7 linked regions of the Homo sapiens genome follow. The protein of the gene in region 1 interacts with the protein of each later gene in a pairwise test. Each region holds a gene or a part of one and is shown in the gene's direction. Other genes may lie near its edges.

Evidence for each region.
Region 2: the proteins of YIPF1 (region 1) and SIGLEC12 interact in binary tests that used the Homo sapiens proteins (3 or more experiments, as listed by UniProt).
Region 3: the proteins of YIPF1 (region 1) and RETREG3 interact in binary tests that used the Homo sapiens proteins (3 or more experiments, as listed by UniProt).
Region 4: the proteins of YIPF1 (region 1) and SLC71A2 interact in binary tests that used the Homo sapiens proteins (3 or more experiments, as listed by UniProt).
Region 5: the proteins of YIPF1 (region 1) and JPH3 interact in binary tests that used the Homo sapiens proteins (3 or more experiments, as listed by UniProt).
Region 6: the proteins of YIPF1 (region 1) and TLCD4 interact in binary tests that used the Homo sapiens proteins (3 or more experiments, as listed by UniProt).
Region 7: the proteins of YIPF1 (region 1) and ERGIC3 interact in binary tests that used the Homo sapiens proteins (3 or more experiments, as listed by UniProt).

The regions. Positions count from the first base shown.
Region 1 is NC_000001.11:53,876,298-53,879,797, reverse strand, and holds part of YIPF1 (protein YIPF1), read left to right. Parts: intron 1-1,075; coding exon 1,076-1,156; intron 1,157-1,395; coding exon 1,396-1,483; intron 1,484-3,500.
Region 2 is NC_000019.10:51,491,801-51,495,300, reverse strand, and holds part of SIGLEC12 (sialic acid-binding Ig-like lectin 12 isoform a precursor), read left to right. Parts: intron 1-3,471; coding exon 3,472-3,500. UniProt on the Homo sapiens protein: Putative adhesion molecule that mediates sialic-acid dependent binding to cells. The sialic acid recognition site may be masked by cis interactions with sialic acids on the same cell surface.
Region 3 is NC_000017.11:42,599,375-42,602,874, reverse strand, and holds part of RETREG3 (reticulophagy regulator 3), read left to right. Parts: intron 1-3,500. UniProt on the Homo sapiens protein: Endoplasmic reticulum (ER)-anchored autophagy regulator which exists in an inactive state under basal conditions but is activated following cellular stress.
Region 4 is NC_000009.12:94,451,069-94,454,568, forward strand, and holds part of SLC71A2 (hippocampus abundant transcript-like protein 1), read left to right. Parts: intron 1-387; coding exon 388-459; intron 460-2,889; coding exon 2,890-3,002; intron 3,003-3,500.
Region 5 is NC_000016.10:87,640,508-87,644,007, forward strand, and holds part of JPH3 (junctophilin-3), read left to right. Parts: intron 1-3,500. UniProt on the Homo sapiens protein: Junctophilins contribute to the formation of junctional membrane complexes (JMCs) which link the plasma membrane with the endoplasmic or sarcoplasmic reticulum in excitable cells.
Region 6 is NC_000001.11:95,193,855-95,197,354, forward strand, and holds part of TLCD4 (TLC domain-containing protein 4), read left to right. Parts: 3' UTR 1-3,500.
Region 7 is NC_000020.11:35,552,078-35,555,105, forward strand, and holds part of ERGIC3 (endoplasmic reticulum-Golgi intermediate compartment protein 3), read left to right. Parts: intron 1-2,294; coding exon of another isoform or gene 2,295-2,309; intron 2,310-2,966; coding exon 2,967-2,998; intron 2,999-3,028. UniProt on the Homo sapiens protein: Possible role in transport between endoplasmic reticulum and Golgi. Positively regulates trafficking of the secretory proteins SERPINA1/alpha1-antitrypsin and HP/haptoglobin.

The DNA.
Region 1 (3,500 bases):
ACCGCTTTCACTCCTCTCTGTGAGTGCTGCAGACCACAGCTACTTCTAATCGGCCATCCGTTTTCCTTTATAATGAACAAAAAATATCTGCCTATAGCACCTGCCCTTGTCCTGCAAAGCAGCTCAGTGTTCACCGTACTTTTTGCTGTATGAATTCCCTTCGGATATCTGAAGATGACAGGCACAATTCCTGGCATTGGGCATGCATTCTGCCACCAAAGAGCTGTGTTGTTGGGATGGGTATGGCCCTCCTCAGGTGCCTCTTCTCAATAGGATTTTTTTTTTTGTCAGAGTAGTAATATTTTTAGTACTTTAGAGTGAGTCAATATATCAGATTTTTGAGAATTCAGGTGGCAATAGTAGGGAGGATTGTGGATGGATGGGGGAGGAAGAGATATTTACACTGCTGGATGCAGTGGCTCACGCTTGTAATCCCCGTGCTTTGGGAGGCTGAGGCGGGAGTATCACTTGAGCCCAAGAGTTTGAGACCAGCCTGGGCAAAATAATGAGACTCTGTCTCTACAAAAATTAAACAATTAGCTGGGCATAGTGGTGTACGCGTGTAGTCCCAGCTGCTTGGGAAGCTGAGGTGGGAAGATTGTTTGAGCCCAGGAGTTCAAGGCTGCAGTGAGCTATGATTGCACTACTGCACTCCAGCTTGGGAAAGAGAGTGAGACGCCATCTCAAAAAAAAAAAGCGAAAAGATATTTACACTGACTGCCTTCTGTATGTGTTGTATGTGTGTATATGTATTTATTATTGTACATAATTCTATATACTGTTGAATCTAGATAAGGGAACTAAGCCCAGCAGGAGTCTAGTGATTTGCCAAAGCTCCCCTCAGTGGAGGGGCCAGGATTTGAACCCTTTTGGTGTGACTTCAAAACCAATGCTTGTTTTTCTAATCAGGCTGAGAGTTGCGAATTGGCTATTTCAGAGTTGGTTATTGAATGTGGAAGAGCCTATTGTTTCAAACGTTTTGCTTTTCCATTAGATCAGATCCCTCCTGCACCCCACGCAGCTGGAATTAAGAAATTGCTTATGTGTTCATTATGTTTTATTTTATTTCTGACAGTTACTTGCTGGACAGAAGAAAAGCTCCCCCTTCTGGACATTTGAATACTACCAAACATTCTTTGATGTGGACACCTACCAGGTTTGGAAACCAATTTCACCTTTCCTTTTACGGGTAAAGGAGACTTGTTTCTTTAATGGTTGAACAACCAAATAATGTGAAAGCCTTTATATACTGAAAATGGTCTTACAAAAGTAAAGGGTTATTAGCATTTGAAAATACTATCATAAAAGCTCTAATGACTGAGTTTCAATTTTGTAGTAGTTGAATTTATTAAACTTAAAAAACTTCAGTAGAATTACTGCTATGATGTTTTCCAGGTCTTTGACAGAATTAAAGGATCTCTTTTGCCAATACCCGGGAAAAACTTTGTGAGGTTATATATCCGCAGCAATCCAGATCTCTATGGTATGTTTAGTACTGATTTGTTTACCGTATTTCAGTTGAACTTGGGTGAGTGTGAGGGTTGCCTGGAAATGTGGAGAACTGCACTATTGGTGGGGCATGCCATGTATTATTAGACTTTTCTGAACTTCAGTAGCAACCCTTGCAAGTAATTTTGGAGGAATACAATTATGTGTTATATTAGTGCCACGTCATCATTACAAGTACTAGTATATCCTTCAAAGGTCTTTAAATGGGGCTGAGCGCAGTGGCTCATGCCTATAATCCCAGCACTTTGGAAGGCTAAGATGGGAGGATTGCCAGAGGCTAGGAGTTTGAGACCAGTCTGGGCAACATAGCAAGACCCTGTCTCTACTAAAGGCTGGGTTGGCACAGTGGCTGCCGCCTGTAATCCCAACACTTTGGGAGGCCAAGGCAGGAGGATTGCTTGAGCCCAAGGAGTTTGAGACCAGCCTGGGCAACATAAGGAGACCCTATCTCTACTAAAAAATAAAAATAAAAAGAATGATTTTTAAAAATTCTTCAAATAACTTTACAACTTGAGACAAATTTAGTCACTTTGACTAGGTGGAGATTGGACCATTTGATGTTGGAGGAGAAGGTATTCTCACACTTTTTCATTGATATGCTGAGTTCCAGCTCTGCCCTCAGATGAGCTGGCTCCTTTTAGGATTTGGTCACCAGCAGTGGAAGTCTAAAACAGGATTGGGCCGGGGATTGTTGTCATCCCTGACCTTAATGCTGTCTGAGAAAAACTCAGAGGTCCACCCAGTACTCCTGAGGAAAAGGCCCCAACAGTGGCCTGTGTTTGAGGGGAGAAGAGAGTGCTGTCCGTGTGCCAGGTGCTGTACCAAAGACTGTGTGTGTACTTGATCATATCTCATTCTTGCAACAACCCTTGCAAAGTATCCCCACTTTTCAAATGAGGAAGCTGATGCTCAGTGAGGATCATTGATATATATGCTCAATCAGAAATGATAAATAGTAAAGCAGTCATATATGTTGATTTTAAATATGGACTCTAGGGAGCCTGGTGTGAAAACCATTGCACTGGCCCATGCTTTTCATCTGAGGGTTGTCAGGGTGGTTTCTCTGTCTCATTCATTCTTACTTGTAGCCTGAGAACATCCTGAGGGGCAGGCTCTGTGCCTCAGTGTCTTTAGTGCCTGGCAGAGGCCTTGGCACACAGCAGGTGCTCAAACAATTTTTAGCACCTTATTTTATGCTAGACTCTGTGCTAGAGGCTGAGGATTTAAAGATAAGGCCATGGTCCCTAGCCCCAATGAGGAAGAAGAGAGAACACTAACATCTGTTGAATACCTTATAAGTGCCAAGCGTGGAGATAAGCACTATTTTAGTATTTTATGCTATTTTATTTCCCATACTCCAAGGTAGCCTTATCTTACAAAAGAGAAAACTGAGATTAAGGAGATAACTTGCCCGTAGTTACAGAGTTAGCAATAATAATGGCAAACACACATATAATGCTTATTATGTGCCAGACACTATTATTAGGGCAGTACCTGTATTAACTCATTTAATCCTTATGCCAGATCCAACTTCATGAGGGAGATACTATTATTATCCCCATTTTATAGATGAGGACACTGAGTCACACAGAGGTCCAGTAACTTGCCTGAGATTATACAGCTAGTAAGTGCTGGGCTCAATTTTCAAATCAACACTGTAGCTCATAATCCATTTCTTCATCACTATGCTATACTGCCTCTCATGACAAAGCCAGGGCTTGAATCCAAGGCTTGCTTCTTTTCTGTGACACTAGTAGCCTCATTAGCTCATAGACGTGGTTAAAAGAAGAAGGTACAATATAGGTGAAGTGTTTGATAGCAGAGAGGATTAGGTTTTGTTGTGGGTGGAGGTTAGAGGAAGGCAGTTAAGAAAAAGATGACAATTTACAGAGTGTAAGGAAAAGATTGATAACTTTGACTACATTTCACCTAAAATTTAAAATTTCTACACAACAAAATAAACCATAAGTAAAGTAAAAAAATAAACCACA
Region 2 (3,500 bases), on another chromosome or scaffold:
CCGTCCATCCATCCATCCATCCATCCATCCATCCATCCACCCACCCACCCGTCCATCCATCCATCCATCCATCCATCCATCCACCCACCCACCCGTCCGTCCATCCATCCATCCATCCATCCATCCATCCACCCACCCACCCGTCCATCCATCCATCCACCCATCCATCCATCCAGCCATCTACGGTGGAAAATAACACATAACATAAAATTTACCACCTCAACTTTATTAAGTTTATGGTTGTGCTAGATCTCTAGAACCCTTTTATCTTGCAAAACTGAAACTCCACATTCGTTGAACAATAACTCCGCCCTTTCCCTCCCATCCTCTTCATCCTCCTGCAGCCACTGGAAATCACCAATTTTACTTTATTTTCCTATGAATTTGACTATTCTAGATACCTCATATAAGTGAAATCATACAGTATTGCTCATCTTGTGACTGGACGATTTACTTAACAAATATCCTCAAGGTTCACCCACATTGTAAGGTGTGACAAGATTTCCTTCTTTTTAAAGGGTAATTAATATTGCATTGTGTGTATGTTTACCGCATTTTCTTTATCCATTTATCTGTTGATGTACACTTGGGTTGCTTCCACCTCTTGGTTATTGTGAATAATGCTGCCGTGAGCATGGGCATGCAAATATCTTTTCAATATCCTGCTTTTAATTCTTTTGGGTGTATATCCACAAGTAGGGTTTCTGGACTCTAAGATTATTCTGTTTTTTAATATCTTAAGGAACTGCCATACTGTTTTCCACAGTGGCTACACTATTTTACATTCCCACAAATGTCACACAAGGGTTCCCATTTCTCCACATCCTCACCAACGCTTGTTACTTTTTGGTTTTCGTTTGTTTTTGACAGTGGCCATCCTAACGCGTGTGAGGTGATATCTCATTAAGGCTTTGATTTGCATTTTCTAATAATTAGTGATGTTTTCATATGCTTCTTTTGATTTGTATATCACCTTTAGAGAAAGTCTATCAGAGTTTAAGCCTATTTTTGAAACTGTGTTGTTTCTCTGCTGTTGAGTTCTAAGAATTTTTTTAATATATTCTGGATATTAAAACTTTTTTCAGATGTATGGCTTGAAAATATTTTCTACCATTCTGTAGGATGACTTGTGTTTCTGTTAGTGATGTTTGAGCACAGGAATGAAGGAGGCTCAGATCTGACACTGACTGTGAGATTGAAGAGCACTCCAGACAGAGGGAAGAACAGGGTGAGGCTCAGGCACAGGAGGGACCAGTGAGAGGATCCACAAGGACGTCTGTGTGATTAGACAGAGGGAAGCAAGGCCAAGAACAGGAAATGACTTTGGAGAAGTTGAGCCTGTGTGTGAATCGTGTCTGGCTGCACAGGGCACTGTGAGCATTTGGAGAGTTTTGTGCAAGAGACCATGATTAACTTTTATTTTCATGGGATCCCTCTGGCTGTTGTGTGCAGAAGAGACTGTGTGTGGTAGAGGAAAGACAGAGCAGAGAAGATAGAGAGGAGGCTGGTGAACATCTCAGGCAGGAAGTGGTGCTGGCTGGAACCAAGATGGCAGTGGTGGTGGACATGGCTGTCTTATGGGTAAATTCTGAAGTTAGACTTATGAGAATTGCCAATAGATTGGGTGTACAATGTGAATGACAGAGAGGGAGCAAGAAGACTTCCAGATTTTTGCCCCAATCCATGGGTAGAATGGAGGGGTCAGTCATTGAGGCAGAAAAGATTGTGCAAAAAAAGAGATCTGGGGGAAAAAAGGAGGAGTTCAGATAGAATAGGTTGCATTTTGTGTGCCTTTCGACAAGATGTGTGGGTTTGAAGTATACTATTGGATCAAGGACTATAGTCAGCAGAGGGGAGAGGGCTGGGTGTAAATTTGGAAGTCGTCAGTTTATTGATGGCATGAAGACAACACAGTGGATGAGATTGCAAAGCAAAAGTAAAGAAGAGCTCAGGGCTGCTCTGATATTTAGGGTCAGGGAGATGTGGAGCATCTAGCAAAAGGGCTGCCAAGAAGGTAAGATGGAGCCAGAAAGCACGATGTCCTGTAGTTAAGTCAAGAAGGGCTTCTGTGTAGGGAAGGTGAGCAGCTGGGTCCTCTGCTGCTGTGAAGTCCAAGAAGGAGAAGACTGCAAGACGGACATTTGGACTCAGCCAAGCAGTGGTCATGGTGACCTTGATAACAGCAGTGCTGAGATGTGGTGTGTGTGTGAATGTTAATTTGAGTAATCAAGACAGAATGGGGGAGTGAAATCACAAACAGTTCCATGGAGCATCTGCTGTGCAGGGGAGTAGCAGGGAAGTTCAGAGATGAAGGAGAAGCCTCCCAGGCAGCCTCTGTCACTCTCCACCGTGTGAGTCTATATTAGTTTCCTGTGGCTGCTGTGACAAATTGCCACACATTTCCTGGCTTCAAACAACAAACATGGATTAACTTAAAGTTCTGAAGGTCACAAGCCCAAAATGGGTGTCACTGGGCTAAAATCAAGGCATTGGCAGGCAGGGCCAGTTCCTTCTGGAAGATCCAGGGGAGGATGCGCTTTCTCACCTTTTCCAGCTTCTAGAGGCACCTGCATTCCTTGGCTCAGGACCCTCCCTCTGTCTGCAAGTCAAGCAGCCTGGCATCTTCCAATCTATCTATGCCCTCCTCCTTTCACTACTTGTAAGGACCCCTGTGATTCCACTGGGCCCACCCAAGTAATCCAGGATAATTTCCCCATCTCGATATCCTTAACCTAATTCCATCTGTAAAGCCCCTTTAGCCATGTAAGGTAACAGATCAACAGGTTCCAGGGGATTAGGGCATGGACATTTTGGAGGGGTCATTATTCTTCCTATAAGAGGGATATAATTTATTTTATTGACTTGTCTTCCCCACACCACCAAACTGTGAGCTTCTCAAGGGCAGGTGCCACGTCTGAATCAAGGCCCTGTAATTCTCTCTCACTTGCCCTCTTCCTACCCATCTTATCATAATTCACACATAGATATTCATTTGTTTGGCAGTCATTTATTGCCACCTCCTTCAGTTAAAGAGTGAGATGCAGGGGGTCAGAGCCCATGCCTACCGTGTCCACCACAGTCCATCCAGCACCCAGCCCAGGAACTCACACACAGGAGGCCTCAGCAGGACTCCAGGCTTTGGGGTCAGAAGGAACTGACTGGATTGGGTCCCGGTATAAGAGGGAGTTTGCGCAGGGTACTTAACCATTTCTACCTCAGTTTTCAAATTTATAAAATGGAGACAATAATAATATCTTACTATGGAATTGTTGTTGGAAGTTAATGAGATTAGTAAACACCACATAAGGTGATAATTGAGTATTAGACATTAGAGGAACGTATTAAAGAGATTTCAGCAAAGTGCACATGGGATGAATGGAGGAAGGAACTCCTGGGCCTCCTTCCTGGATGCTCTCTGGTGCATGCTGGCCCCACTGCTCTGCACTGACTCCCTTCTCTTCCTCCATTCAGGGACCCCTGATTGAATCCCCGGCAGATGA
Region 3 (3,500 bases), on another chromosome or scaffold:
ACCTCTGGGCTCAAGCCATCCTCCCACCTCAGCCTCTCAGGTAGTGGGGACTACAGGTGTGTGTCACCACACCTGGTTAATTGTTTTGTATTTTTCGTAGAAACAAGGTTTCACCATGTTGCCCAGGCTGGTCTTGAACTCCTGGGCTCCAGCAGTCCACCCACCTTGGCCTCCCAAAGTGCTGGGATTACAGGTGTGAGCCTCCACACCTGGCCTTAAGTATTTTTAATGATCATAATTAATTCTGGGGAAAATATGGAAAAATGGGCATATGGCTGATAGGAACATAAATTGGACAGCCTTTCTAGCAAGTAGTTTGGTAACATATTTTAAGCCACTTAAGAAGCTTTTCCAGGGCTGGGGGAAATGGAGAAAGAATACTAATGGGTATGGGTTTCTTTTGGAGTGATGAAAATGTTCTGAAATTACATAAGGCTATTAGTCGTACAGCATTGTGATTTTTTTTTCATCTCTGCTGCTGGCAGATGAATTGAAAGAGAATTTTATCGTATACAAACCATTATCTCAATAAAGCTATTTTCTTACTTTTTTTTTTTTGAAACGGAGTCTTACTCTGTGGCCCAGACTGGAGTGCAGTGGCATGATCTCAGCTCACTGCAACCTCTGCCTCCCAGATTCAAGCAGTTCTCCTGCCTCAGCCTCCCAAGTAGCTGGGACTACCGGCGTGCACCACCATGTCTTGGCTGATTTTTGTATTTTTAGTAGAGATGGAGTTTCACCATGTTGGCCAAAGTGGTCTTGAACTCTTGACCTCAAGTGACCCACCTGCCTCGGCCTCCCAAAGGCTGGGATTACAGGTGTGAGCTACGGTGCCCGACCAATAAAGCTATTTGTTTAAAATAGTTAATGCCTTTGACCCAGTAACATGCTCAGTGATGTATAGTTCAGCTTTTATTACATCAAAAAATTGGAAACTTTTGGCTGGGCGCAGTGGCTCATGCCTATAATTCTCAGCACTTTGGGAGGCCGAGGCAGGCAGGTCACCTAAGGTCGGGAATTCAAGACCAGCCTGACCAACAATGGAGAAACCCCATCTCTACTAAAAATGCCAAATCAGCCGGGCATGGTGGCGCATGCCTGTAATCCCAGCTACCTTGGGAGGCTGAGGCAGGAGAATCCGTTGAACCTGGGAGGCAGAGGTTGTGGTGACCCGAGATCGCGCCACTGCACTCCAGCCTGGGCAACAAGAGCAAGACTCCGTCTCAAAAAAAAAAAAAAAAAAAAAGTTGGAACCTTCTTAGTTTATTTTTCGTTTATTTTTCTTTTCTTTTTTTTTTTTGAGAGAGTCTCGCTCTGTCTGTTGCCCAGGCTGGAGTGCAGTGGCGCGATCTCGGCTCACTGCAAGCTCCGCCTCTCAGGTTCACGCCATTCTCCTGCCTCAGCCTCCCGAGTAGCTGGGACTCCAGGCGCCCACCACCACTCCCGGCTAATTTTTTGTATTTTTTAGTAGAGCCAGGGTTTCACCGTGTTAGCCAGGATGGTCTCGATCTCCTGATCTCGTGATCTGCCTGCCTCAGCCTCCCAAAGTGTTGGGATTACAGGCTTGAGCCACCGTCTTAGTTTATTTTATTTTATTTGAGATGGAGTCTTCCTGTGTTGCCCAGGCTGGAGTGCAGTGGCACAATCTCAGCTCACTGCAACCTCCGCCTCCCGGATTCAAGCAGTTCTCCTGCCTCAGCCTCCTGAGTAGCTGGGATTACGGGCACCCGCCACCATGCCTAGCTAATTTTTGTATTTTTAGGTAGAGATGGGGTTTCACCATGTTGGCCAGGCTGGTCTTGAACTCCTGATGTCAAGTGATCTACCTGCTTCAGCCTCCCAAAGTGCTGGAATTACAGGTTTGAGCCACTGCGCCTGGCCCATTCATTGTTTTTTTTGAGAGAAGGTTTCACTCTGTCACCCAGGCTAGATTGCAGTGGTGTGATCATGGCTCACTGTACCCTGGAACTCCTGAGCTCAAGTGATCATTCCACCTCATGGCTGATGAGACCACAGGAGTTCATCACCACATCAGGCTAATTGTCTATGTATTATGTGAAAAAGTTTTAAAACCATAGTGTTTTTATATGTGAATTTTTTAATGAAGAGAATAGCCTGTCTTCACACTTTTTAGAGTACATATGTGGATAATGGATCATTTTAAAAATATTTTATTATGGAAAGCTTAAAACATGTGTAAGTAGGCAGAATAATATTGTGTGCCACCATGTACATAATATTATTTTTTTCAATTCCTGGCCAATTTTGTGTCTTCCATACCCCAGTTCTTTTCTACGTCTTCCTTATTGTTTGACACAAATTATTGATGTGTCATATCATTTAATCTAGGTATTTCAGTATATTTTTCTGAAAAAGAGACTTTAAGAAACATCTGCCATCATTATCACATGCAAAAAATTAATGATTCTAGTCAGTGTTCACATTTCCAATTTTCTTATAAATGTCATAAATGATACTTTTTTTTTTCTTTTCGAGACAGGGTCTTGCTCTGTCTCCCAAGCTGGAGTGCAGTGGCACAATCAGAGCTCACTGCAACCTCAACCTTCTGGCTCTAGCAATCCTCCCACCTCAGCTTCCCAAGTAAATGGGAGTACAAGCGTGCACCACCACACCTAGCTAATGTTTTTCTTTTCAGTAGAGATGAGGTCTTGCTGTGTTGCCTAAGCTGGTCTCAAACTCTTTGACTCAAGTGATCCTCCTGCCTCGGCCTCCCAAAGTATTGGGATTACAGGCTTTAGGTACCACATGTGGCCTGTTGTGTGTGGTTTTATTTGTTGTTTTTTTTTTAAACTCTTTTTTTCCCCACAAACCAATTTGTTAGTGTTTAGGTGGTTTTTTCTGTTTTGCTTTTTTGTTTTTTGAGATAGGGTCTCGCTCTGTCACCCAGGCTGGGGTACAGTGGCACGATAACGGCTCGCTGCAACCTCAGTTTCCCGGACTCAAGCTGTCATCCCACCTCAGCCTGTTGAGTAGCTGGGATTACAGGTGCCCGCCACTATGCCCAGCTAATTTTTTGTATTTTTAGTAGAGACGGGGTTTCGCCATGTTGGCCAGGCTTGTCTCGAACTCCTGACCTCAGGTGATCCACCTGCCTTGGCTTCCCAAAGTGCTGGGATTACAGACGTGAGCCACCATGCCTGTACTTTTTTTTCGATAAACATGAATTCATGTTAGTTGTATAATTTTTTTTTTTTTTTTTTGAGACGGAGCCTTACTCTGTCACCCAGGCTGGAATGCAATGGCACAATCTCAGCTCACTGCAACCTCTGCCTCCTGGGTTCAAGCGATTGTCCTGCCTCAGCCTCCTGAGTAGCTGAGATTACAGGCATACACCACCACGCCCGGCTAATTTTGTATTTTTAATAGACATGGAGTTTCTCCATGTTAGCTAGGCTGGTCTCAAACTCCCGATCTCAGGTTATCCACCCACCTAAGGCTCCCAAAGTGCTGGGATTATAGGCATGAGCCACTGTGCCCAG
Region 4 (3,500 bases), on another chromosome or scaffold:
GGCAAAGTTGAGAGCCACTGGCTTTGCTAATGAGCAATGCTGTATTGGCAGCATCAAAAGTCAGTCATTTTGTTTCATTTTTTATTACTTGATACCATATTTATCAACTTGTGGGTTGGGGATGGAGAGGGTATATAAAACAACAGGTAGACATATAATAGAAAATGTCTATAAAACATTTCACAATTTAAGTTGTGCCTGCTTATAACGATTTCTTACATCAGTTTTAGATATAAATTACTGGTTATATAGGTTCAGCTTTCAGCATGTCTTAATTTGCCACTGGTTTTATGAATTTTCCTAGACTTATCATTGTAATAGAACATAATATTTCTTATTATTTTATAATATCTATATTACTAAAGTGTTTTCATTTCATTTCCATAGGTCATAGGTTTTGGATCTGTTAAAATTGCAGCATTCATAGCTATGGTAGGAATTCTGTCTATTGTGGCTCAGGTGAGTATCATTTTATCTATACTTAAAAAATTTAAAAAATATCCTGATAACCATAGTTTCACAGGAAGCCACATATAAAAATGCAGGAAGATATTCCCTGAGCTGCTACCTCAGTCCCTCACCCCCTGCTATGGTAAGGTCTTGCAAGCTATAGTATAATATCAGATCAAGAAACTGATGTGAATGTGGTCCACAGAACTATTCCTTCTTATATAATGTGTAGAGGTTATTTTCTTTTTTGAGGTTGTAATTTAGGGGAAATTTTTTATGTTTTTATTTAAAACAATGTTTTTAAAATTATATCCTTGACCAGGCAGCCCAGCCTGGTGACTGGCATCCACTCTTGTCTTCAGCCTTGCCTCCTCAGCTCAGGGGCCCTGGCCCCGATGCCACTGCCTAAGTCTCCTCGGAAGCCACAGTGGTTCCCCATCCCAGGCCCCTGGGGGCCTCTGGTGCTCCCCTTGCACCAGCATCATCTGCCATTTAGTGTTTTCTCAGAAAAGATGATTTAGGAGAACTTTGATACAACTTTCCCTACTTTTTAGAATATTTGTCGTAACCTCTGCTGGGTCAATTATTTTATTTGCTTTTACACCAACCAAAATAGTAAATAATTATAATCTATCTCTGGATTGCAAAATCAACTAGGAAAATGGTTCAGTGTTATTTTAATGTTGAAAAGTAAGTAGAAATGAAAAGCAGAAATGAAAATCTGTAACTGCTTTAACTCCGACTGTTCCCAGGACTGAAGAAATATGAATCAGAGCATTAAAACATATTCAGTGAGGGCCAGACACGGTGGCTCACACCTGTAATCCCAGCACTTTGGGAGGCCAAGGCAGGTGGATCACCTGAGGTCAGGCGTTCCAGACCAGCTTGGCCAATATGGCGAAACCCTGTCTCTACTAAAAATACAAAAATCAGCTGGGTGTGGTGGCATGTGCTTGTAATTCCAGCTACTCAGGAGGCTGAGGCAGGAGAATCGCTTGAACCTGGGAAGTGGAGGTTGCTGGGAGCCGAGATTGCGCCACTGCACTCCAGCCTAGGTGACAGAGTGAGACTCCATCTCAAAAAAGAGAGAGGGAGAATATATATATATATATATTTTCATATATATATTCATATATATTCATATATATTCATATATATTCATATATTCATATATATTCATATATTCATATATATTCATATATATATAATAGATATTATATATAAATATCTATTATATATAGGTATTGATAAATGATTTTCAGTGAGTAGAGAGCATTAACCATTTCCCTATCTATTGTAAATACAGTACCAGAAAAGATGAAGCATATTGTCCTTAAATTAATTCACTGTTGTGCCAAGGCACACTCACTATATTTTATGGTACTGCCTAGGGGTTGTTTTCCCTGAAATGGTTACCAGGAAAGCAGAGCATTCTTCTGTGGTAACCTCTCTCAAGGAGAAATGAGAAGGCCGCAAAACTACTACATTTGACAAGGCTTATGGGAATGCATCAAAACAAAGGCCGTTTATATTTTTGTTTTTGTTGAAATGTGTTGCAAATGTAAATTATGTTAACCTTTCAAGTTGATCATTTTGGTTTTTTACAAAATCAAACATAAACTCAGCCATCTTTTTTTTTTTTTTTTTTTGACACGGAGTCTCGCTCTGTCACCCAGGCTGGAGTGCAGTGGTATGATTTCGGCTCACTGCAACCTCTGCCTCTCGGGTTCAAGTGATTCTACTGCCTCAGCCTCCCAAATAGCTGGGACTACAAGTGTGCACCACTATGCCTGGCTAATTTTTGTATTTTTAGTAGCGACAGGGTTTCACCCTGCTGGCCAGGCTGGTCTCGAACTCCTGACCTTGTGATCTGCTTGCCTCGGCCTCCCAAAGTGCTGGGATTACAGGCATGAGCCACCACACCCGGCCAGCCCAGTCATCTTTCATCCAACCCCTTTTTAGACTTTCTCAACTAGTTATATTTAGCAGAGTATATATTTGTTAAAATCAAACTTACATCCCAATTCCAACTTTGTAAACTTCCAGCAGAAGCTCTCATATTCTGTAAATGTTCAGCAGGAGTTTGCTATTCACAGATATTTAAGTGATTAGTATTTCTCCAGAGACTGAGGCTGTCCCTCTCAGTCATGGTAACTGGTGAACAGTTGTGATATCCTTTCAGGAAGTGCCAGCAGAGCACCAGGTAGACAGGCTTCTTAGGGAGGAGGCTGAAAGCATTGAGCCCCAGGTCAGGCTGGGAGCCCCCAACACTCCACCCCTGTAGAAGGTCATCAGTACTGTCCAGACTCTGAGGTTGCAGGTCAGGCAGTGTGCCCTTAGAGGTCTCTGGTCATCAGGGAAGGGTCTTCACACACAGAGCTTGTATTTTAATTCTGTGTGTTGATGTGGTTTTTCAGAGTTGTCTCCTTTACTTTGCAGACGGCCTTTCTTAGCATCTTGATGAGATCATTAGGAAATAAGAATACTGTCCTCCTTGGCTTGGGCTTCCAGATGCTCCAGTTAGCCTGGTACGGTTTTGGATCACAGGCCTGGTAAGCCTCACTCTTAGATTCTCGTGAACTGCCAGACAGATGCCTCTTAGAGGAGCTTGGGGTGGTTGGGTGTGATGAGAAGGAAGCAAGGGTTATTTTGCTGGTTTGGTGTATTCAACATTGCAGAAACCATTAGGCTTTAATTTGGGGAAATGTGGAGCTAGATAACAGGATTATTTATAAAGACTACCTTTATGTCATTGGACTTTCACGGAATTGTTCCTTAATTGAATGTATCTCTCTCTTCCCTCCAGCCCCCAAATAAAGTTTTATGTCTACTTTTTAAAGCATATGCCAATTTTTTTTTCTTTCCCTGAGACGGAGTCTCACTCTGTTGCCCAGGCTGGAGTACAGTGGCATGATCTCAGCTCACTGCAACCTCTACCACCCGGATTCAAGCAGTTCTCCTGCCTCAGGCTCCTGAGTAGCTAGGATTACAGGCATTCACCACACGCCCGGCTAATTTTTGTATTTTTAGTAGAGATGGGTTTCACCATG
Region 5 (3,500 bases), on another chromosome or scaffold:
AGCCTCTTGAGTACCTGGGATTACAGGCACCCATCACCATGCCTAGCTAGTTTTTTTGTATTTTTAGTAGAGACAGGATTTCACTATGTTGGCCAGCGTGGTCTCTAACTCCTGACTTCAGGTGATCTGCTCGCCTCGGCCTCCCAAAGTGCTGGGATTACAAGCATGAGCCACCCCACCCAGCCAACAAACGCTTTTTAAATATAAGTATGTCCCATGCAGCGTGTCCCCTAAAGAACGATGTGTTGTTCATCTGAAACTCAGATGTTACCAGGCGTCCTGTGTTTGATGTGACAACCCTGTCCACAGCCCTGGCACGGAAGGGGCAGTCGCTGAGGGTGCAGTCTTGGGGTGAGGGTCCCTGTGATGGCAGCCTGTGTCCAGCTTGGACTGGCCATGGGAAGGCCACTGTGTGGGCGGGTCTGGCCTTGGTAAAGGGCCACCCCCTGAGACCCACCGAGCCTAGTTCCAGTTTCCTCCTCACAACCCCAGCCTGGAAGGGCGTTCGGGTGTGGAGCAAGCCACAGGGTTTCCCCCCAGTGTGGTTCGCATTGGGGTGCCGGGTGGTTCCGAGTCAGCTGCCCCCTCTGCCTCCTCCCCGTGCCCATCACAACTGCCCCCAGTGCTGGGACCTCTGGGCAAGAGGCTGAGGCTGACACTCTGGAAAGGTGTGCAGTGGTGTTGTGGGGTCCCTGGGGTCCGGTCCACATACATCCCTGCTTGCCCGGCTCTTGGCATCCTGTAGGAGAAGGTGCCACAGCCTAGTGGGTGGGAGGGCAGGAGCCCCATCACTGGAGTCGGAGGTTGCTTTTGATGTTGATGGCAGTGAGGTTGCTTCTGATGTTGATGGCAGTGAGGTTGTTTCCGACGTTGATGGCAGTGGACTTGCCTCCAGGTTAGCTGCCTCCCCAAGCAGCTTTGGGGGTACAGAATGACCGACCAGTGTGGGATCCCAAACATCCTATCCCCTTGCCTGAAAGTGGGACGAGGCTGAAGCTGACCTCTCGCTGAGACCACCTCATTCGGCCCCGTCCTCTGCTGCCACGTCCTTCTTCCTGGTACCCCCCTTCTCCAGCCCCAAATAAGTCACGTTCACAGGATCCCCAGCTCAGGCTCTGCTCCTGGAGAAGCTGCCCTCAGAGGCTGCGTTGCCGATTCCTTTTTCAACGGAGAGGCTGCAGCGTGTGGCAGGTGCCACCATCTCTTGGAGTGAGGCAGCCTCAGGGGCTCTGTCCGGGGCTGCAGCCTGATTGGTGATCTTTGCACGCCCCTTCTCTGCCCTGGCTGGGCCATATGCCACATGGGGCGTGAGGGGCCTGCAACACAAGTCCCTCTGGGGGCTCGTGATGTGGTTGAGCTGGAAGATACATTCTGGAACATCTAAGACCCCAGCCACTGTCCTGAGTCTGGATGCCGCGGGTGCCGGGCATGGGGGCTCTGGGCCCGGGCCCTGGGGTGCTTGGAGGTGCTGTGGAGGAGGGGTGGGGCTGGCTTGGAGCCCATGGGATTCGATTGGAGGGTGGGAGTGTGAGAGAGGAGAGAGCGTGAACAGAGCCTTGGACAGAAAAGCCTGGAAGGATCAGGACCCTTTGGGGGGTGGCGGGTGAAGGTGGCGGGGTGTGGGGATACCCTGGGGACGGACAGGTCACTTGAGGCTACAGGACTTTGAATTCCACACTTAGTTTGGATCCCACCCTCTGGTGTGGGGCGTGTGAGTGGAGGGGGCCTGGCTAGGGAAAGGGGGGGGGCAGTGGGGAGTGGAGGGCTGCTTCGCTCCGAGAGATGGCGGCACCTGCCACCCGCTGCAGCCTCTCCGTTTAAAAAGTGACTGGCAGAACAGGAGCAGCTGCTGCCAGCTCCTGTCCATTTTGTCCTCTGAAAAGAGAGGTCGGGGTGGCCAGGTCCTCATTTTTCAGGAGACAGAAGAGAGCTGAATTTTTATGTCAAATCTCTTGGTTTTGAGTTGTTAGCAGGTAATTCCAATGTTTTATGAAAACAGCGGTGGGACGAATAAAACCTACGTATCAGTAAGTCTCGGCCTCCAGGCCTCTGGTCTGCAGCCTGTGCCACCGTGAGTTGGAAGAGTGGTGGACGGACTCTGTTCTCCCCGCAAAAGCCCTTTCCAGGGTGGCACATCCACGCCGTTAGTGCCCGGCTGCAGGGAGAAGCTCAAATGACAAATGAGGCTTGAGGTTTGCCGCGTTGGGCGTCGTGCTGAGGCCCAGCCGTCCTCACGGTGACCTTTGGCATGAGGAGTCCTGGTTCCACTCTACAGACGAGGACACTGAGGGCCAGCGGGGCCCAGAAACTTCCCTGAGTCACAGCTCACAGAGCAAGACATGGGCCCAGGTCTGCTGACCGGGTTTCCTTTTTATTTTATTGTGGTAAGAGAAATACAGAATGTACCACGTTAGCTACTTTTAAGTATACAATTCAGTGGTATTAATTACCTTCACGGTGTTAGGTAGCTGTCATCACTGTTTACCTCCAAGGCTTTCCCATCATCCTACTGCAAAACTCTGTCCCTATTCAACACTGACCCCACAACCCTCCCCAGCCCCTGCACCCACCGCGCTTTCTGCATCTCTGAGCGTGACTACTCTAAGGACCCCGTGTACATGGAATCATCCGATATGTGGCCTTTTGTGCCCAGCTCAGTTCACTCTGTGTAATGTCTTCAGCGTTCATCCACATTGCAGCCTGTGTGAGAATGTTCTACCTTTTCAAGGCTGAATGATGTTCCATCGTATGGACGGACCGCATGGCGTCTGTCCATTTACCAGGTGATGGACTTGTGGGTTGCCTTTCCCTTTCCAGCCATGGAAACAGTGCTGCTGAGAACCCAGGTGCACAGGCAGCTGCTGCAGTCCCCACCCTCCCTTCTTCTGGGGATATCAGGTCTGCTGATTTTATGTCTGAAGGTCATGGGCCACTGTCCCTTCCCTATGCCCTTGAATCTCTTCCATGGTGTGTCCACTGTGTGGTCTTCCTGGATACCTCCAGCAATGGGGAGCTCACTGTCTCCCAGAGCAGCCCATTCAGGGCTTAGTGTGTAGCCCACACCTGTGTCCCTGTAGCTGCCACTCATTAGCCTCCTAACCCAGGACGCGTTTCCTTGTGCCCTTGGCAGGGGCTCCGTATTCACTCTGGGTTCTGTGGTCCTCACTCTGCACCACAGACTCTGATGCCTCCCTTCTCCCTCCCCGATTTCCAAGAGAGAACAAGATCTAGCCATGAGAAGCAGGATGGAGGTGTCTTCAAAAACAGCCACTGGTGATAGAAGTTGTAGGAAGGTACCATGGTCTGTCTGCCTCCACGCAAACCTCACCAGGTTTCATCAAGATAGCACACCAGGAGTGGTGTGGCTCATGACTGTAATCACAGCACTTCTGGAGGCTGAGGCAGGATCACTTGAGCCCATGAGTTAGAAACCAGCCTGGCCAACATAATGAGACTGCCATCTCTACAAATAATTTACAAAGTAGTGGAGCATGGTGGTG
Region 6 (3,500 bases), about 41 Mb from region 1:
AAGCGGTTTTATCTTGTTCTTACCTTTTTGCAGGAAAAGTGGCTTTAAAAAAATTTATATAATAAAACTATTTTGGAAATTCATTCTTTTAGAAAGAGACCTTGAGATAAATATTTTTTGACTCTGGATATTTCTATAGTTCTGAACACAGATTTTAAACCCACTATCAAAATGAAAACAATATAAAGCTATATTAGTGAGTCTCCATGTAGCAGTTTGTTTTTATAGTTACTGTTTCATGCTTAAAACTTCATTCTTACTTTCATTAATGTTACCCTTCACTGGTATAGCCACTCACTAAATAAGTATATTTAAAACATCAAAATTTTGAACTAAAGTTTGTGATTCTCTTATTCAGCAATCCTTATCTTATGCTGGCTGCATGAGTTAATTCAACATCCAGATTAAATATCCTGAAGTAGGTTCTATATATTTCCTCATACAACAGACATGGAATGGAAATGCCACTAGAAACTGCCCTGCTACTTTTAAGTCTGACCTTTGCAGGAGGTACACTTTGCTGTTCTATGATTGTATTCACCTACCTAAAATACAAATGAAGACAGAACATATCATTTACTGCACGATGAATTTTTCATTTATTAAATGAAAAACGTTTGCTAGACATTTTAAATATTAAGTATTTTGACTACACGGATTAATTTAAATGATTCTATCAGGCATTCTGATATTTAACAACTCTATTAAAATATTTATAGAAAAATAAAAGCAAATTGATATAAATTTTTGAGCAATTCTATTTTTGTAGAAAAAAGATAACCTGTAATTATAAAGATGTTTTTTGAATGTGTAGTATCCTAGAAAATAAAAGTTCTTGTGAAACTTAAAAAATGAATGAAAACCAACTAATAGCATGCAAGATCATAGATCCTGCATTAAATTTTTATTTGTGAAAATTTGAAAATTATGAGCTATAACTTATAAAGTTTGCCTTCTTATGTCTAAAATCTTTTAAAGGATTATTTGCATTTATGTAAAACTGGAAATGAAGTTATATATGAGTGCAAAGAAATTGACTTCTGCTCAAATATGTGTTGATACCCTACAGTAAATTGAATTAAATTTTTATCCCAACTGTTTGATTTTATTATTTCATGGACTAGCCTTACGTTAAGTGAAATACTATTTATGTTGTTACCACCCCTAAGAGTGACTCTGATATATTATGGATGACCCAGGACGGTCTTAAAGGTCTAGTTTTAAAAACTGCCTAGTTTGTAAGTATTTGAATCCAGTTCTTTTCTAAATTTTAATAATTTGACTCAAAATTTTTGCTACAGGGTCAACTTTTAAATTGTATATTTCCTCTGAGGCACACTGGGCATTTGGAGAATGGTTCTTCACTGGTGTAGAGAGCCAGGTTTACTGTTGGTTGCACCATCTGTTATCAGGCATGCAGAAACATTTTTCTTCTGGAGAAACAGAGGGGAAGGTGTTGTTACAGTGTACATGTTTCCTCTGTGTCGTTTTTAAGGGAAATAAACATGTTCCAAAAGATGCTGTTAAAATAAATATTTGAACACGTTTTCTGTTTCTAGGTTGCTCTTAATTCCAAACATTTAAATAAATGTGCATTTGAATAGCTTTAGGTGGTTTAGTCTATTAGCTGAAATGGAAAAGTTCATGTATTGACATCATCAATAATACTTCATAAAGGTTTATGTATTTTTATGTGTTTGGATTCCATAAGAAGTTGAACTTAGATAATTTTATCAAGAGTAGCACAGTGTTTCTCAGGTGCGAGCCAGCATACAGCGAGACCCTTCATGTGTCTCTGGATGCACATATATCTTCCCAACCTTAAACACAGCTCATTGAAATACATTAAAGCTACTGAAAGTGAGTTCTGATGCAAAACACATGTGAGGTGTGTAGGAACAATGAAAAGCTAGAGGATCTGGAGTTAGAGGAGGCATTGAGAGTGCTTTTCCCTTAAACGCCGTGATAGTCCTCCCTTGATCTAGAAGTATTCTCTTTGAATCCTTCCATCTCTTCCTCCTGGTACACCAGATGACTTCATCAGCATCTCCCTCTTTTATGCTAACACCTTTCGCTGTCAACTTTTGAGACCTCCCCATGTATCTATAAGCTTCCCAGTCTCTTATGGCAAATTTAAAAGTTTACAAATAGGTTCTCTCATTGAAAAAAAGCATTGTAGTAAAGTTTAAAGTGGAGCTCAGACAAATCATGACTTATTAAGAGACTACAGGAAGCCATTCAGCATTTAATAATAACTGTTTACAACATGAGGCAAAGCTAATAATGTTATGGTTTTATTAAGAGATCTGTCATCTCTGTTTTTCTTAAACTGGTTTAACAGTCAGAGCTTTGTAATGTGTTTCAGCTGAAGATTTATTATAGGCTTGTAAATTATCTAAATGTTCTTTTTAGACCCCATGACAGGAGCACAGAGGAACTGAGATAACTCTGTGTTATGAGAGGGTGGATGCTGGCTTGTGCCAAAATTATTTTAGAGTCCTGCTCTTTAGGGAAAACTTTGCTATGGTAATGTTTCTTTGAAAACAAATTTACCAGCAACTGCGTTACTTGGTGTTTTCCAAAGTACAACATCCAAGGCTTGAACCTTACCCGTTTCTAGGCCAGACTAGGCCAGCCTCTAGTTTTGATAATAATTCATACCTTTATTGGAATATATTTTGGATAGCAGTGAAGAATTGAAAGCAGCTCCTAAAGATTGGTTTGTTTGCTTTGAAAATGTTTACACTTATTCACTCTAAGCAGTGGACCATTTTGATATCAGGCCCTATACATAAGACCAAAACCAGAAATATTTCTAAATCTCAAAGATTTATAAGTACAGTACCTCTGGCTGAAAACTCGTTAAACATCTTTGGATATTTTTTCTTTATATCTTTATGTAATTATTTCTGTAATTAAGTGTACATTAGGGTTATTTGCTACTTAACAAGCCTAAAGGTATAGCTGTATATAGAATGTGCTCTGTGTTTTTCTGTTTCCTGCTTGGTTTGTTTCTGGTATGACTATGTCTACTTTTTATTTAAGGAATTTTGTGTAGATAATACTCTCACTAACTTGTAAATAGGATAAGTTATGAGATTTTTTGGTATTAGAATTTGTAATAATAATGACTTTTAGATTTTATTTGAAAAAGCTACTTGGAAAGCAGTAAATAGAACTATAGTGATATATATAGATACATAGATATATACTTTTTTCTGAGAATGTATAATATATAATTGTCAAAGATTTTTGGAAGTCTTTCAAAATATACTTAATACCATTTTGAGAACATACCTTCTAATTTATTTCCATAAGGCTGAAGAACTTTTATTTACAAAATGTAAGACTAGATAATGTATGAATCAGTGTTACTAGGACTTATCAGTACTTAAAATAGCAACTTGGCATTCTTTATTTTGTTTCCTGGTTGTTTTATTTGGAGGGATAATAAATGTCTAAGTTATTTCCATTAAAATTTTGAAATGTTTGTATACTTT
Region 7 (3,028 bases), on another chromosome or scaffold:
AAAGAAGACAGAATCTAGTGCCTTACATATGTGGAAAGTCCAAACTTAGCACCAGGAGGAAGGGCAGGCTCTGTAGGTACAGGTAGGGTGGTAGCTGGTGTGGCAGAAGTACATGGAGAGTCTCTTCTGAGTCTTCCCATCTTCTCCGTGTTGTAGGAAGGAAGGTCCTCAGTTGAGAATGAGGAGAGAGGGAAGGAGGTGTTGGAGATTTGAAAGAAGAAAAGATGTGACTGGTCACTTGGGGGTGGAAGAGTGCGTGGACTGGGGAGATTGAGTAGGATTGATGCAGCCCTAGGGCCTCCCTGGAGTCCGCGGCTGTGAATGCAAAGAGAGCGGTCAGCATGGTTGTCTGTGTGGGAATGGACTCAGTCAACAGAACATTGCAATTGCATGGGGTTTGGTGTTGCCAGGTGCCTGCAAAGGTGAGGGAGTCAAATATGTAAAGAACTCATCTTGATTCTGGACCACAGCATATGAGCTAGGAAAGGAGGAAAGACAGGATGTGGAGAAGCCAGTGAGGGGGCAGGAGGAAAAAGGGACTACAAGTCCTGAGTGTAGTGTCAACAAGTTATTGGAATTGGGGAACTGGAGGAAATTAGAAAGCTGGTGGAGCATGAGTTGCTTGAAATTGAAGTCACAGAAGGGGCTTTGTTAATGACAAAGTTTAGGGAATGGCCAACAGAGCAAGTGGCTTGGGTAGGCAGAGCACAAGATCAGGGAGGAAAGGATGTCCAGGAACTGGGAGGCCCGGGTACTGGAAGGATCATCTACGTGGATATGGAAATCACTAGAACGTGTGACAGAGGTAGTACAGGAGAGAGTGACAGGCAGTTGCCCAAGCTGTTGAAAAATGGCATGGGAAAACTGTTCTGGAGGTTCCATATCGATATCTAGGTGACTGAAACAAGCAGGGCTGCTTTGCCCTGAGCTTCAAAGCTGGGGATTTTTTTTTTTTTTTTTTTTTTTTTTTTGAGGCTGGAGTGCCATGGCACAATCTTGGCTCACTGCAGCCTTGACCTCCTGGACTCGAGATCCTCCCACCTCAGCCTCTCAAGGAGCTGAGACCACAGGCACATGCCACCATGCCTGGCTAATTTTTTTTTTTTTTTTTGCAGAGACAGGGTCTTGCCATGTTGCCCAGGCTCCTGGGCTCAAGTGATCCTCCCGCTTGGCCCCCCAAAATGTTGGGATTACAGATGTGAGCCATTGTGCATTTTTAAGGCAGATAAAGGGAAAGTGATCTGGAAGTGGCAGTAAGGAGCAAGAAAGACTTCTCTTTAGGCCAGGGAAGAGGTTGTGTATGGAGAGAAGATAGTCGCACGTTGAGGGGATGCCAGGGAGTTAGTGCCTGAAAGGAAGAGCCAGGCTGAAGCAAGAAAGTGAAGAGGAACCCAGGGGTTGAAGGCAGGGTTGGGGAAGGTGGGAGTTGGTGTCACAGTAAAGGATGGACAGAGCTGCACAGTGACAGAGCCCAGGGTATGAAGATGGCCTCTCAAAATGGTTGAAGTGAACAGGAAGAAAGGGCCCCCTGGAGGGTAGCTCTGCTGGTCTTCAGGGCAATCTGTGGGGGTGGGGCTGTGTTGGGGAGGGGCCAGTGTGGGGGCTGGAGGACCCTGCAGAGCTCTGGGACCCCCTCTTCACTCTGGAGGAAGCTGGGAGAAAAGGGTCTTGCTGGGAGGGCAGGAAGATGATCAGTGTCAAGCTGTTGGCACAAGGTCTGGCGGGCACTCAGTAGACACACAGCCAGAGTGGCAGCCTCTTGGCCTGGGACTGTTAGACTTGTGGATCCCCGGGCCGGGGGTGCTCTGTATTTGGAAGGATGTATAAATGCAAAGGTACAGTTGCCCAAGGCCAGAGATCTGGCTGAATTGAGGCCTGGGAGTGAGTTTCTAACATCCTTGTTGATTGGGGCTGGGGTGGGTAATAATCTCTTACAGTGTAAAGTTTACAAGTATTTTTCCATCTTAGATCCCACGTGATCCTTAGGACAGCCCTTTGCAAAGGAGAACACTGAGGCCCAGAAAGGGCAACTGATTTGCCCAAGGCCACACAGTCAGGAACTTGGCTCTTTGAGCTCTAGGCCTCTTGTCCTTCTAGGCCACTATTTTGCTCCTCTCTGGCCAGATTAGTTCACTCTCGAGGAGGGGCCCAGAAGGAGGCTTGTTAGCTGGGGCCAGACTGTGTTGCTGAGGCTGAATGTTCCAGTCTTCCCTCCTGCAACATATCTTGCTCTCATAGTTCTCATTGTGAAGCTCTGAATCTTTCTTCTCTCTCCTCCCTCCCCCATGCTGCAGTACATGCTGTGGAGAGTAAGTGGCCCTGCCCCCATGGAGGCCAAACCCCTACTTCTGGGGCAGCCTGCCCTACTAGAATGGCGGGGAGGTTGGATGGGGCTGTGATTGGGTCTCCTCTGACCTGGCTGCTGGGTGACTGTAAAAGGTCTGGGATGTATCTTTGAAGTATGGTTCCTTGCAGCAGGAGGGATTGAGGCTAGAGGGCAGGAATAAATTGTTCTGGAACAGTTGGTACAGGGTCCCCATGGGATTTCTTCTGGGGAGCTTTGAGGGTGGAGGCAGGGAAAGTGTGGATGGCATTCTCAGATCCCACCTCACTTTGAGGTTCAGTGATTTGCCATCAGCTCTAGTTAGTGAGAGCCCATAGTCGGTGGGTTTTGTTTCCGGAGATGCAGGCAGGGCCATGGTGGTAGTCAAGGCATAGAGTTCCCTGTGGACGTCAGGGAGGAACCAGGGTCTGTTCTAAAGACTCCTGAGGAGGGCGTGAACTCTCACACAGGCCCAAGGCTTGCCCTTTCTGGCTGTCCTTAAGCAGGACCAGGAGGTGCCAGGCTGGAGAAGGAATGAGGGGCAGAGAAGACAGGTGGTTTGCAGTCCAGGGGGAGGAAGGAGGAGGCCAGTGCTGCTCCTACTAATGACGCCTTCTCCCTTGCCTTCTCCCTTCTCTCCTAGTCCATGACTTGCAGAGCTTTGGCCTTGACAACGTACGTACCAGATGGAAACCATGGAGGGCA